Linked DNA regions of Homo sapiens. The protein of the gene in region 3 purifies or fractionates together with the protein of the main gene of each other region. This does not show direct contact. Each region holds a gene or a part of one and is shown on either strand. Other genes may lie near its edges.

Region 1 (3,500 bases), about 88 Mb from region 3:
ACCAACACGGTGAAACCCATCTCTACTAACGATACAAAAAAGATCAGGTGAGCATGGTGGCGCATGCCTGTAATCCCAGCTACTTGGGAGGCTGGGACAGGAAAATCGCTTGAACTCAGGAGGCGGAGGTTGCAGTGAGCCGACATCAAGCCACTGCACTCCAGGCTGGGCAAGAGGGCAAGATCCCGTCTCAAAAACAAACAAACAAACAAACAAAAAAAACACACACACACACAGAAATAAAATCTTAATCGTAGTAAGACACAGCTGAAAAGATATGAAGGACTGACTCCCCGAGGCTACTGCATGCCACCCTTTCAATCATTTTCCATTCAGGAAACTTCGGATCAGATCATTTACATATGTACGTTTAGACAAGGGGTCCTATATTAATGAATCTTCTCTGTCAAAATCCTGGTCAAAGTCAGAAAACAATCCCATGGGACTCCTGGGAGCATCTCACATTGGGGAAACCTGGAGAAGTGGAGAAGCTGATCTGCCCGATTTGCAAACCGCTCCACTGGCCCCAGGGGGTCCAGCAGCACCGGTGCCCTCCCCGTGAGAGTCGGAGCCTCACTCAGACCCACACAGTCAGGATCTACACCTCCGCAGGCTCCCCTAGGCATCTCTGGGCACACGGAGGCTGGGAAAATAGCACACGGGCCCTGGGGTTGGGGGTCCCAGCACAGTCCAGCCTATTCTCTTTTCCTCCTGAACACTTTCACTGTGGATATGTGTTAGGGAAGAGGGGAGGGAAGACAGAGACAGGGAGAGGAGACAGAGACTGAGTGATGCCTCCATTCTGCAGAGGAAAACATCAAGACCCTATCTCAGCACTCAGCACTCAGCACCCTGCTGACCCAGACAGCAGGACCAGGGCTAGGACCTATAAATGTCTCTGCCTCTCAGTGCTCTGGTCTGCCATGTGTCTGGCTGCCTCTTACATCCTGACAAGCACAATGACTGTAATTCCAAACACAGGACTGGGAGTTGGGGGTGAAGACGGAGAGAACCGAGGAGTGGGGAGGGAAACTGTAGCCTTTGGGCAGCTACTCTCTAATAAACAAAAACACAACACCAGAAAGGGCTTGTGGAAAAGAAACACAAAACGGAACCCAATTACTGACATACGGCCCTCTGTTCTATATTCACCCGCACTTTCTTAGCCGAAATGCCATTGTGAACGTGCAATCTGGTATCCTGATGTTTGTCCTGACTACGTTACCGTATCTTCACCTTTCTAATTTTAATTGCTTCTGATGGCCCATCAGATTGGTAGAGCCCTAATTATTTAAAGAGCCTAATTCTCCCTGATAAAAGGTTGGAGTCCTGTATCAAAAGCTTTTAGCTTTCTGTAACCAAGGGGGAAAACATGCTTCTTTCGAAAGATGACAAAATGTCTAGCTTCGAAGGGTCATTCGAGTATGGCACACAAAACGGTCTGCATTCACAGAAAATGATGCCATTACACAAATCTCCCACTGTGCCACATGGTGACACCATCATTCCAACACACTGCCTCCCAGACCCAGTAATTTTTGCAAAATTAATTACTGCACTTTACACTGAAAAGATCCCATCAAATAATGTATGTACACAGGAAGGTAACGGGCCCAGAGCCGTGGGAGGCAAAATGGCGCTGTTCTCAGTTTCCCCTTCCACCCTACTGGGCTCCGAAGCCAGCATTGCTTCAGACACCAAAGGTGCCCATGTGGGGCTCAAGCCTGGTGTCCAATAAATATGTGTGTCATTGACCTAATGCACGTCCAGCCAATGGAAACCTCACACTTCTGACTTCGGTTTTAAGGTTCTAATCTTGAAGTCTTAACAGTTTACACATATTGACCTGAGGATATTGGATACTTTTAATTAGAGAGGGTTGAATTCCTCTAAAGGACTTCATGGACGAAGAAGACAGCTAGAACCCCTGGTTTCCTGCTCCTCAGTGGAGATTCCAGGCAGGAGGCAGGCAGCAAACACTTGCATTCCTGCGAAGCGCCAGGCATGGTGCTGGGCGCGGGAAAGACACCAGTGAAGACGCAGGTACGCGCAGCCCTGAACATCCCTGCTGCAGCCACAGGGCCCGGCCCCACCACGGAGCTCTGTGAACTCAGGGAAGGTGGTGCAACTCAGGCGCCCCTTGCTCATGTGTAAAATAGGGATAAGTCATTGCCCAGGATCACTGAGGCCCTGCCACATAACAAAGAGTCATTAATGCTAGTTATTCTCACTAGGATTGGAAAGGTTTGTACTTACTCAATTTATGTGGACTTTCTATAAATACTGTATTGATATTCACCTCACCACAGGCAAAAAGGACGCAGCTTTCACATGCAGCCTACCCTAAGGATGCACCTGGACTTCCCAGTACACTCAGCTCCACCAGGCACCAGGACCTTCAGAAGCCACAACCTGTGACTAAGACAATGAGTCACTCTTGGTGTGTGGCACAGTGTTCTGTGGCAGTGGGGACTTAGTCATGGTAAGTCCGCCATTCAGAGTTATGGAGCTTATTTCAGATTGAGTGAAAATCAATTTAAGTTTCCAGACATGTCTTGGGACAACAGAAGATACATAAAGAGGCAGAAGAAGAGAAAGAAAAAAAAAAAAAAAAAAAAAACAGCCTGAGACAGAAGATATCCAAGCAAGTAGAAAAAACAAACAAACAAACAAACAAAAACAGCCTGAGAAATACTTTCTTCATTCAAGGCCCGGGGAGTCGGGAATATAGAAAAGAGAAAGAGATTTTCAATTGTATCTTATAATTAAATAATATACACTCTACTGAGAGAAGAAAAAGCAGCCCATCACATAATATCGTTCTTGCCACCTGGACTCCTATCACTATAAAAAGGCATTTTCCGTTCCCCTAACAAAGCCACCCAAAGAATATCTGTGTAATTTTGGGCAAATCGGGTTTTGCTCACTTTTGAGCATTAACTAGATAAAGCAGCTTCACCAAGAAAGGTCCCTGAAAAACATGGTGGAGATGGTGGAGGCCTGACACAATGGCTCATGTCTGTAGTCCCAGCTCTTTGGGAGGCCAAGGCAGGAGGATCACTACAGGAGGCCAGGAGTTCAAGGCCAGTCTCGGCAGCATAGTGAGATCCTGTCTCTACAAAAATAATAATAATAATAATAATAATAATTAGCTGGTCATGATGGTGCATTCCTGTCTTCCCAGCTACTCAGAAGGTTGAGGCAGGAGGATCACTTGAGCCCAGGAGTTTGAGGCTGCAGTGAGCTATGATGGCACCACTACACTCTGGCCTGGGTGACACAGCCAGACATAAGTACTCTTCGTGGTCTACGGGAGAGTACAATATTTGGAATTAAGATCTGTTTTGCTCCTATCACAATCACGTATGCACCTCATGCCCTTACCTAACTTACTTTTCTTTCTGAGTCTTTCTCCCCACTTCCAAAATGAGGACACGCCTCTCTTGGGATCATGTATTTAGGCTTGGAGATAAGAAGTGTAAAGCTCTTAGAATACAAAA
Region 2 (2,873 bases), on a different chromosome or scaffold from region 3:
GCTCTGGCCCTGCCTTTGGGATCATTCACCCAGGAGCTGCCCCACAGGCTCCTCCTAAGCCCCACACAGCTGCGCCTTCCTCCCTGTTCCCCGTCTAGGAGGGGGCATGACCACTGTCCACCCAACTGTCCATCTACCCATCCACTCAAGCCTGACATTTGCCTGGGAGTAGCCCTCGCCACCTGCCTGCCTGACGGCCCCCAGACCAACCGGCCACTGCCTTCTGAGTGTGCCACCTCCCGCATCCTCATCCTCCTCGCCTCCCCGAGACCCCTACTGGAGTCAGCCCCTCATCACCTCTTTGTGGCCACCCTGCCTACAGCCTCTCCCCTTCCTGCCAAGCCTCCTGCACATGGGCCTCCAGGGTGACCTAAAAACCAAGCTTCCCATTATACACCCTGGGGGGAGCTTCCATGGCTCCCTGGCCCGGACCCCAAGGCCTTGCTGCCGGATCAAAGCCGTCGCTGGGCACCCCCAGCCCTCTGGTGTGCCGTGTCCTGCTAGACGCCCCCCTTTGCCCCTGATTTCCTTTAACACCTAGGGAAATTCTACTCCTCCGTCGATGCCCAGCATGGCTTCTGTGAAGCCAGATGGTTCTAGATCGCTGGAGAGCTGGCCGCCCTCTCGTGTGCTCAAGGTGGCTGGAGCACACTGGCCCTGCAGAGCCTCTCCGAATGCCGCCTTTTGTTTCCATCCCCCCCAGCGTCTGTGTGTGGTGTCAGACCAGGGCCACGCATTCGCTGTCCAAAACCCTCCGGCACACTTGACCAGCCCGCAGAGTTCCAGAGATCCTCACCAACCCCATCTGAGATGAAAAACCAAAGGCCAGGGGTGGCATCGCCAGGACCCCAACTCAGTTCTGACTCTGGAGCCAAAAATCTGGATCCCTTTGTCATGCCTCCCGGGGTGCCCCATCGAGGTCTGTGCTCCAGAGGGTGCACCCTCAATGCCGCCCTGGAGCCAACCCTCCTGATTCCTTCTGCTTCCGGGCTACAGGACAACCAGCGGCCTCTCCTGGGCATGTCTGGACAGCATCCTGAGTCCTGGCCCCTGGGGCTCTCTGGCCTCCCTGCTCCTGCCACCACAGCTGCCTGCGTTGTTCCCTGCAAGGCCGGGGGCTCCCACCACAGGGCCCTGCCTCCCTGCCACACTCCCTGCCCAAATTGGCACAGCTCCCAGCTCGGTTTTCAGAGAAGAAAGATGGCCAGCAGCTGGCAACCAGGGTTCCAGTGCAACTGCACAAACAGCCGGGCAACGCTGGCCAAACTGGAACCCCTTCCTCCTTTCTGGTAGCCTTGTGAGCAAATACCCACTCTGCCCCTTCCAGGACCCGTGGGAAGCCATGGAGACATGGGGCAGCATTTGGCTCTTTTTTTTTTTTTTTTTTGAGACAGAGTCTCGCTCTGTGGCCCAGGCTGGAGTGCAGTGGCGCGATCTCGGCTCACCGCAAGCTCCGCCTCCCGGGTTCACACCATTCTCCTGCCTCAGCCTCCCAAGTAGCTGAGACTACAGGCGCCCGCCACCACGCCCGACTAATTTTTTGTGTTTTTAGTAGAGATGGGGTTTCACCGTGGTCTCCATCTCCTGACCTCGTGATCTGCCCACCTCGGCCTCCCAAAGTGCTGGGATTACAGGCATGAGCCACCGCGCCCGGCCGGTGTTTGGCTCTTTACTGACCAAAAACCCTTTCCCCAGGCCACAGGCACCCTTTCTTCCTGCGTGCCCTCTCCTCCCGAGTCCCAAGGCCTTACCTTGCAGTTGGGTTTGCAGTCTGGAGCCAGTTGGGGCAGGAGAGAGAAGAGAGGTAGATGAGCTCGGCAGCTCAGTCGCAGAACCCTCCCACTACACCCCTCCAGCCCTGCCTGGCTCTATCCCGTCCTGCCCATCCACCTGCCTGACCCTCACCATGGTTGATGAAGGCGGCTGGGCCCAGCCACAGCTGAGCACTCCGCTTGCGGGTTGAGTACATGATGCTGAAGTCATTCTCACCGGCCCTCAGCAGCCCCTCATCTGCCTCCCGCAGCTCTGCAATGCAGCCCACCAGCAGCTCCAGCTTCTCATTCTTTTTCCTGCCAAGAGGCCAGGGGGCAGGGCTGTGGGCGATGCCTGGCCTCCTGCAGGTGTTCAGGGGACTCGGGCCTCCGGCACAGAGGCACCCAGGAAGGAGGGACTCCTGGGCGCTGGTGCTGGCTATTGGCGATCCATCTTCCAGATCTCCCTCTTCCCCTCCTGCCTGGGTGGGCTTCCCTGCTCCAGCCCACAGCCCCACAGGACCCTTCTACTGAAAGCCTTCAGGGCAGCACGCACACAGCAGATACAGCCCCCATTCTCTCCCCTCGCTCTCATAGCACCTCCTGCCCCCAAATCCCTCCTGCCTGGACTACCCCCTACTCGCCCCACCAGACCCTCAGGCGGGTGCTTCCCCTGTCAGTGTGAGCCTCGCCCTGGGAGCACTTGCTCATTCCTCACAGCTCCCCTGCAGCATGTACCAGCTGGGACCAGTGACTGCATGTTGACTTGTCTGCCCCCCACCTCCTCACCAGACTGTGAACCCCGCAGGGGCAGGGGCAGGGGCTCCTCATTGCACTCAGGGGTGTTTAACATGTGGTGGGGGCTCAGGTCACAAGGAGGTAAGGACAGCACGGCCCTGACCAGAAGCCTAGTTCTTTCCTGGAAGCCCCAGGAACCCTGGGGTCACATCCGGGGTCTCCTGCTCCAGCGGCACCACGGTAGCCACAAAGGTCTTCCGGGATTAGCCCCACCACCTTCCTAGGATGCCCGGAGGACCAGGCCCCTCGCTTTTCCCCGGTTGGCCAGTCCATGAACAGAGGGTCTCTCTTGTCCCCTCTGAGCTCTGTCTCCTCCAAGGATAC
Region 3 (3,500 bases):
CTGAGAACTAAAACCAACACGCTTTCCTTTTCCTGTGCTAAAAAATGCTGCAGCCAGGCAAAATAACCTAGCTATTTGTTCTAGGAAATAGTCACTTTCAGAAGACTATATGCCAACAAAAATAGCCTACTTATCAAGACTAGTTTGCTCATTAACACTCACTTCACAGCCCTCATCTAGCTGTACTTACCAGTCTAAAGCTATTATGTCATAAACTCTGCCTAATCCTCACCAGTTCCCTACCTTCAAATCACCCAGCCCAAGCCCCAAAACCCTATCAATATCCTTGCCTTATTTCCTTCATCTGAGAAACTACTAAGACTGTCTAGGAGTGGATACCACTCGTAGTGCAGTAAGTCTAATAAACTTTACTTACTTAGAGTAACAATTCATTCTCATTGTCTTCTTAGAGAGCTTATGGCTAGTCTCCAGCTCAAAAATATTCTGAGACTCTTCACTGCCTATATACTGAAGTCACTTGACAAGTATAACTGCATAACATTCAATACAAGCATCGGGGTGATTCATATCACAGCTACCACTTAGGGACTGTGTGAACATAGGTCAGTTACTTTTGTTCCTGAGCCTTAAGTTGTTCTTCTGAAAAGTGGGGATGCTAGAAGCACCTATTTTGCAGGTAGCATGCTGCATAGCATGTAGCGGGTGTTCAATAATGGTTAGCAGTTATTACTTTTATTTATCATCTATTATGTGTCAAGCACTGTACTAGATTCTGCAGAAAGAAATCTGATTAAGACATTGTTCCTTCTCTGAAGGAATTCAAAATCCTAATGGTCAGTTCAACGAACTCTTATAGGCATAGTAAGATCTCTGGGTTTGCTTACAGTACATGTTCTAGAACTTAAAATTACATTTTTTAATGCTACTTTTTATATTGTGAACAATCTCGTGTACAAAAGAGTATATAGAAGTAAACATGAATGCCTGTGAAGCTACACTCAGCTTAAGAATTAGCATAGCTGTAGTCTTCCAACTTTCAGTTGTAAGATAAAGGCAGTCCAGTATAAGAAAAATGAGTAGCACTGGGATTCAGATGATGTGGAATCTAGACTTAGTTGTGACACTAGCTAAGTGTGAGACATCTCACTTTTCAACTCCCAGTTAGCTCTTCTGTTGAAAGACAGGGGTGGACAAGATGACCAGGAAGGTCCCTCTCTGCTAGAGTGGTCCCTGGTTCTCTAGTCTACTCCTCCCTGCCAGGCTCAGTGAAGAACGACACCTCCAACACTAATCTGCTCATTCTCTCACCAGAACCTTCCAATTTTTCATTCCAAGTTTATTTTTCCCCTGACTTTCAAACGTGAAGAAATCTCCTCTACCTCACATTTAAAACAAAGTCTTCATCAGACATGTTGACACCTCTAACTAGTATACTATCTCTTTCCTTCTTTACAATGCCAAATTTTTAACATGTGGGTCACTTCTGAAATTTCCATTTCTCTATCACCATCAGATCCTTTTTCAGATCCCAAGAACCTATTGTAATTGCTTCCTTGAAAGTCACTAAGACTTCTTAGACCAATTCTTGGTTCTCACCTGCCAAGATGGGCAGGAACATTTCCTAAAAGCTCCTGTGGCTCTTTTTCTTTTATTTTTTAGAGGCGAGTCTTGCTCTGTCAACCAGGTTGGAGTGGCATGATCATAGCTCACTGCATAATCCAACCCCTGGGCTCAAGCTATCCTCCTGCCTCAGCCTCCCAAGTGGCTAGGATTACAGAGGCGCTCCACCATGTCCGGCTCTTGTAGCTTTTAAGACCTTGCCTCATCCTGGCATCTCCCCACACTAACAACTCTTCTTTTTCCTGGGCTGCCTCCTTTCAGCCCAGGTGAATGTAACTGCATACTAAAAAGATCATTGTGCCTCCTACCTCAAAAGAAGAATTTATCTGTGAAGGATGAGGTTATCAAAAAAGCTTTACTGGACAGAAGAATAATAACAACTAAAATAATAATGTTACACAAATTCAGATGTAAGGATATCATTTGGATGTCATTTATGGAGAAAGAAGGGAAAATATCACCTGCCTTGTTGTCAATCACATCAATTGCAATTCATCAGCAAATTAGTCTCATCTACCAATCCAACTAAGTACCTATTTTTGGCTTTTGGAATTTTACTGGGTGGAAGACTGGAGTCTATACTGTTGTCAATTCAAATCTGGTATGTTTAGTAAAAACTAAGCTAGCTACTCGTTCAGGAAGCTTTCTGTGATGTGCCTCAAAAAGCTGCATAAAAGGGTTTGGGGGATAAAAGGAAAATAGTGATAAATGACCTTACAGCACAAACTCAGGTCTCTCTGGCCTCTCAGCAAGCTTCAGGGCTTCATGCATGCCTGCAGCTGAGAGCTTCCGGTTGATATTCCGGTACTGGCACTGGAGCAGGCTGCGATAGGTGGTCCTCAGGTCCCGGTTGAAGAAGGCATATATAAAAGGGTTAATGAGAGAGTTTGCATAGCCTAGCCACAGAAATGTCCTCTCCACCCACAGTGGGATGCAGCTGCAGGAAGTGCCACAGATGAAGGGTCTGGCTGTCGAGAGGAGGAAAAATGGCAGCCAGCACACGGTAAAGGCCCCGACGATGATCCCCAGGGTGGTGGCTGCTTTCTGTTCTCGCTTAAAGATGGAGATGTTTTTCCTTTCATGCTTGAGGAGTCTCGAAAGGTTTGCACACTCTTCCACCTCCTTCTGGAGCTTCACTATGCCATTCAGGGCGATGACGCTGTCTGGCTCCACTCGAGGGAAGCCAGGAAACTTGTGTTTGGCAGCACTCTTCCTGGCAGCCTTGTAAATCTGGTAGTACATGAAAAGCATGACGGACATGGGGATATAAAATGCCACTGCGGTAGAGTAAATCGTATAGCCAAAGTCCTGGCTGATCAAGCACACCTTATCATCATTTACATTCTGAGCCCATCCAAAGAGTGGAGGTAAGGTGATGGAGGCGGAGAGAAGCCAGACGGAGAGAATCATCTTCGCCATGCATTTCCCATTCTGCCTCACAGGGTATGTGAGGGGCCTTGTGATCCCAAGGTACCTAGTGGAGAGATGGAAAGATAACAGATGAACACCGTGATCATAACTGGTCAACCAAGCAAGTCCTGCCAGCCAGGTACCAGCGCCAGTCCTCGCAACAGCCCTTCTAGGTAGGCATCATTACTCCCATTTTGCAGAAAGGTAAACTAAGGCTCTGAGATGTTACCTATTTTATTCCGGGTCACACAGAGGCATTGCCAGATTGTAGCCTGAGAGCCCTCTGACTCTAAAGTCAGTCCATGCTTTGTGCATGCCTTATAGTTTTTCACAATCCACGAAGTCAACAAAGTTTAAAAAGCTCTCCGTCCCCATGACCACAGCCACCAAAATCAACCAGGACAACATATCAACTCTGATGTAGGATGTTGTGACACATTCTCAAAACTTAACCAAGGTCTACCACACTCTGGTATTATACACCCAGTGATCACCCCAGCTGTCTTAAT
Region 4 (3,500 bases), on a different chromosome or scaffold from region 3:
GTGGTTAAGTATGAAAACATCCTTATTTTTTAGAGTTGCATCCGAAGCATTTAGAGGTAAAATGTCATGACGTCTGTACTTTAAAATCCTTCCCAAACACAGCAAATAACAGATGGAAAAATCATTCTTCTTCTTAAATCTAGATAATAGGTATATGGGTGGCATATCACTCTACTTTTCTGAAGGCTTAAAATTTTTCATAGTAAAAAGCAAAAATCATAATAAAGAAGACAGAGAAAGAATAGGAGCACGGACTGCCCTCTCCAGAACCCCCTTATCCTGGGCCATTGCACGCAGTCACTTACTCAAATAATAATTGACTACGCGCCTACATTGCTAGGGCTTTGAAGTTCCATGAAGAAATCACAAGTGAAATTCAAAGCTGCACGAGGCTTCATGGCACTGTGAGGTCCGTGCCCAGCCCCAGCACTCTGCAGGCCTCTTGCACCTGCTCCTAGCAGGGAGGAGGAGCAGCCCACAGCTCCCGCATCGAGCTCCCGGCTCAGGCACTGAGCTCGACTCCTGCAGCCATGCTGCCCCATTACCCTCCCCAGCCTTCGGCCTGGAAGTTCCACAGAGCAGACCCAGTGCTGAAGCCCGTGGGACGCATCCTCACGTCTAAGAAAAGGCATCCTTCTATCATAACCAGGGATGTTATATCGGCTCCGAACATTTAGGATACCAGAGCTGGGCCAGTCAAGGGCATCCTTCTATCATAACCAGGGATGTTGTATTGGCTACAAACATTTACGATACCAGAGCTGGGCCAGCCTCATGGATCACCTAATATGATTCCCTCTCCATTATTTTACAGATGAAACTGCTGAGCTCAGAGAGGAAAAGGGACAAATTCAGTATGTCACAGCACTGCAGCAGCAAAAGAGCCTGGACCAGAATCCAGGGCTGCTGACCCGGGCCTGACTTCTTTCTTTTAGGCCACATGGCCTCCTGCCTCACTTGCAGCTCTGAACTCCCAGGGCCCTGGGGTGTGCCCACATCTGCGCCAATGCAAGACCAAGTTCGGATAGCAGAACTCCAAACAGGAAATGTCTCTTGTGCAGAGCGAAATGGCGAATGGCTCATGGGGCGGCCTCTTTGAAAATGGGTCATCTTTCTCTGACAGAACCAGAAGTCCGCTTCTCAGGGCCCACGTGTGCAGCTGGGGTTGGGGGCAAGGGGAAGCTGACCCAGCAGAGGATATTTAAGTCATGTGCCCGCTCCAAACTCATATTTCAGATTCCTCTGTCTAGCCAATCAGAGCACATGCCTGTCACTCACACTGCTCCTGTCTCTCTCAGTTCTATTTTCAATCTGGGCTTGTAGAGCTCAGACAAGTTCTGTCCTCCTTGGTCCCTGTGAGGGGAGGGGGTCCCTTGTTTGCTGCAGAAGCCTGTCCCACCCAACTTCTTCTGGGGGGTGAAGAGGAGGGAGGTGGAGGGACCAAGGAGGTCCCTTCCTCATGAAAAGCATGCCACTTCTCACACAGACCTCACGCTGGGATAGCTACAAAAGGCACCTACTCATTTCTACAGCAAATCTTTTTGTGTGGTTGCATTCGAGACAGCATTGTGAGGTTACTGGGCTAACTCTCATTCATCCTTCAGGTATCCAGTTAATTGTCACTTCCTAAGGAAAGTCTGCAAAACCCCAAGCCAGCATAGGGCCCTGCCATGTGCTCCCCCATCCCCTTCATTCCTGTCATTGTAATCATCACACCGTATTATAGCTGCCTGTTCATTTTCGCACCTTTCTAGTAGAGAACGTAAGCTCTGTGAGGGCAAGGAACCTTTGTTTCACTCAAGGAATCCCCAGTACCGAGCCCGGTGCTTGAATGTAGCAGGTGCTCAATTAACACAGGGAGGACTGGAATGAAAACCTTCCCTGAGGGGCTGCAGTCCATCCAACAAGGACAGCGGCCAGGGCCTAAGAAGTGTACGGGTCAAGTGCAGAGGGAGTTCCAAGGAGAAGGAGACATCTTCTAGCTTGGTTTCCTAAAGGAGGAATATTCGCAGGGACCCTGAAGAAGGCAGCCGGCCAAGATGATCTGGGGCAGTTCAGGTGGATGCAGGAGCAGTGTGAACAAGAGGCAGTAAAACGCAGGGTGGTTCCCGCACACTGCCCAGTCTGTCCGGAGCGCAGGCTGAGGAAGGGCAGGGCCAATGAGACATCTGGGCCACCTGTGAACACTCCGCCTGGGGAGCCACTGCCCTGTGAGCCAAGGCCCCTCGCTGGGAGGCATGAGCCCAGTGCCTGTGTTTTGCAGAGCATCAATAAAAGAAATTCTAGAACTTTGCAGCCCTTTTATAATTTTGCTGCAAGAAGCCCTTTTTTTTTTACATCATTCTTATATTCTATTTTAATAGTAGTCATTTCCTTTTGCTTTGTTCTCAGAGGACTAAGATAAGCTAATCACCATCCTTGGCAAAAGGAGACTTTGAAGCCTTAAAAAGGCTGTCTTGTGATACTATTTCCAAGTATCACAAGACAGTAAAAGTGGCATATCATCTGGGAGAGGGGCCGACGTGGACCACAGTGTGTGCCCTGTGAAAGCCTGGCACCACCCACACTCCCTGACCACCTGTGCTCTCATGCCCCAGTTGCTGTCAGGAAGCATGTGATTACACCGAATTATCTCTAGTTGTCAGGCTGGGATAAAATAGATCACATATATCTTAGGACCTAGGTCAGGGATGGCAAGTGAAAAGCAGGCCCACAGTGTCACAGAGGGGTAATTAAAGTAAGGACAGATGTGGCTCCTGAAGGGCTGCTGAATTCTCTCTGCTCAGAACTCTTCGATCATAGGGCATATTTGAGATCACTCATAACAAAGAATAGATAGCAAGCCAGACACAGCAAAAACAAAGTCGGCCTAAATTCACTTTAGCGAGTGAAGGTGGCTCGCGAGAGGGGCTCAGATGATAGGCACTGCAGTTAGGGCAGCAACAGAGCTCACAGGAGGCCAGCTCTGGCCATGAGGCCATCTGCTAAGGAGACTTCCAGCATAAGAGGCCGGAGGGCGTTGAAGGCCTGGGCTGTGGCTGGCACTGGGGCAGGTGCAAGAGACACTTAGGAGTTTCAATCCGATGCACACAGTGCCTGCTCCATCTCCTGCTCTCTTCTGCAGCTTATTATCTGAGAGAACTCCTAACAGGAAGACACTGCAGGGGAAATGCCAACCACAAAGGCCACAGATAGTGCTGTCCGTCCCTTGCGGCTTGAGGGAAAAGGAGCATTTGGTCTGCTTCCTCCCCCCGACAGTGCCACATCCTCCTGCCCACCCCCATCACTGGCCCGCTATCCACCAGCTATTTCCCCCACCAAAATTATTTTTAACTTTCATCTCCCTTTGAAGGTCACTAGGAGAAAGCACATTCAACAGTGGCATTAACCCCCACCCCAAGCTCTGTATGGGCCTGACCCAAGGCTGGGGGCTCCCAATGGACTCACCAATCCAGCAGCTCTGCCCCAGCCGCTGCCCTGTGAGCCAAGGCCCCTCACTC

What was found.
Region 1: the proteins of HTR7 (region 3) and PFKP purify together in Homo sapiens (tandem affinity purification; one large-scale study listed by IntAct). This does not show direct contact.
Region 2: the proteins of HTR7 (region 3) and KMT5C purify together in Homo sapiens (tandem affinity purification; one large-scale study listed by IntAct). This does not show direct contact.
Region 4: the proteins of HTR7 (region 3) and TUBA8 purify together in Homo sapiens (tandem affinity purification; one large-scale study listed by IntAct). This does not show direct contact.

Annotation. Positions count from the first base shown.
Region 1 is NC_000010.11:3,070,548-3,074,047, reverse strand, and holds part of PFKP (ATP-dependent 6-phosphofructokinase, platelet type), read right to left. Parts: intron 1-3,500. UniProt on the Homo sapiens protein: Catalyzes the phosphorylation of D-fructose 6-phosphate to fructose 1,6-bisphosphate by ATP, the first committing step of glycolysis.
Region 2 is NC_000019.10:55,342,876-55,345,748, reverse strand, and holds part of KMT5C (histone-lysine N-methyltransferase KMT5C), read right to left. Parts: exon of another isoform or gene 2,070-2,873; coding exon 1,906-2,069; intron 1,772-1,905; coding exon 1,752-1,771; intron 1-1,751. UniProt on the Homo sapiens protein: Histone methyltransferase that specifically methylates monomethylated 'Lys-20' (H4K20me1) and dimethylated 'Lys-20' (H4K20me2) of histone H4 to produce respectively dimethylated 'Lys-20' (H4K20me2) and trimethylated 'Lys-20' (H4K20me3) and thus regulates transcription and maintenance of genome integrity.
Region 3 is NC_000010.11:90,746,540-90,750,039, forward strand, and holds part of HTR7 (5-hydroxytryptamine receptor 7), read right to left. Parts: intron 3,056-3,500; coding exon 2,300-3,055; coding exon of another isoform or gene 2,296-2,299; exon of another isoform or gene 2,295-2,295; intron 1-2,294. UniProt on the Homo sapiens protein: G-protein coupled receptor for 5-hydroxytryptamine (serotonin), a biogenic hormone that functions as a neurotransmitter, a hormone and a mitogen.
Region 4 is NC_000022.11:18,113,809-18,117,308, reverse strand, and holds part of TUBA8 (tubulin alpha-8 chain), read right to left. Parts: intron 1-3,500.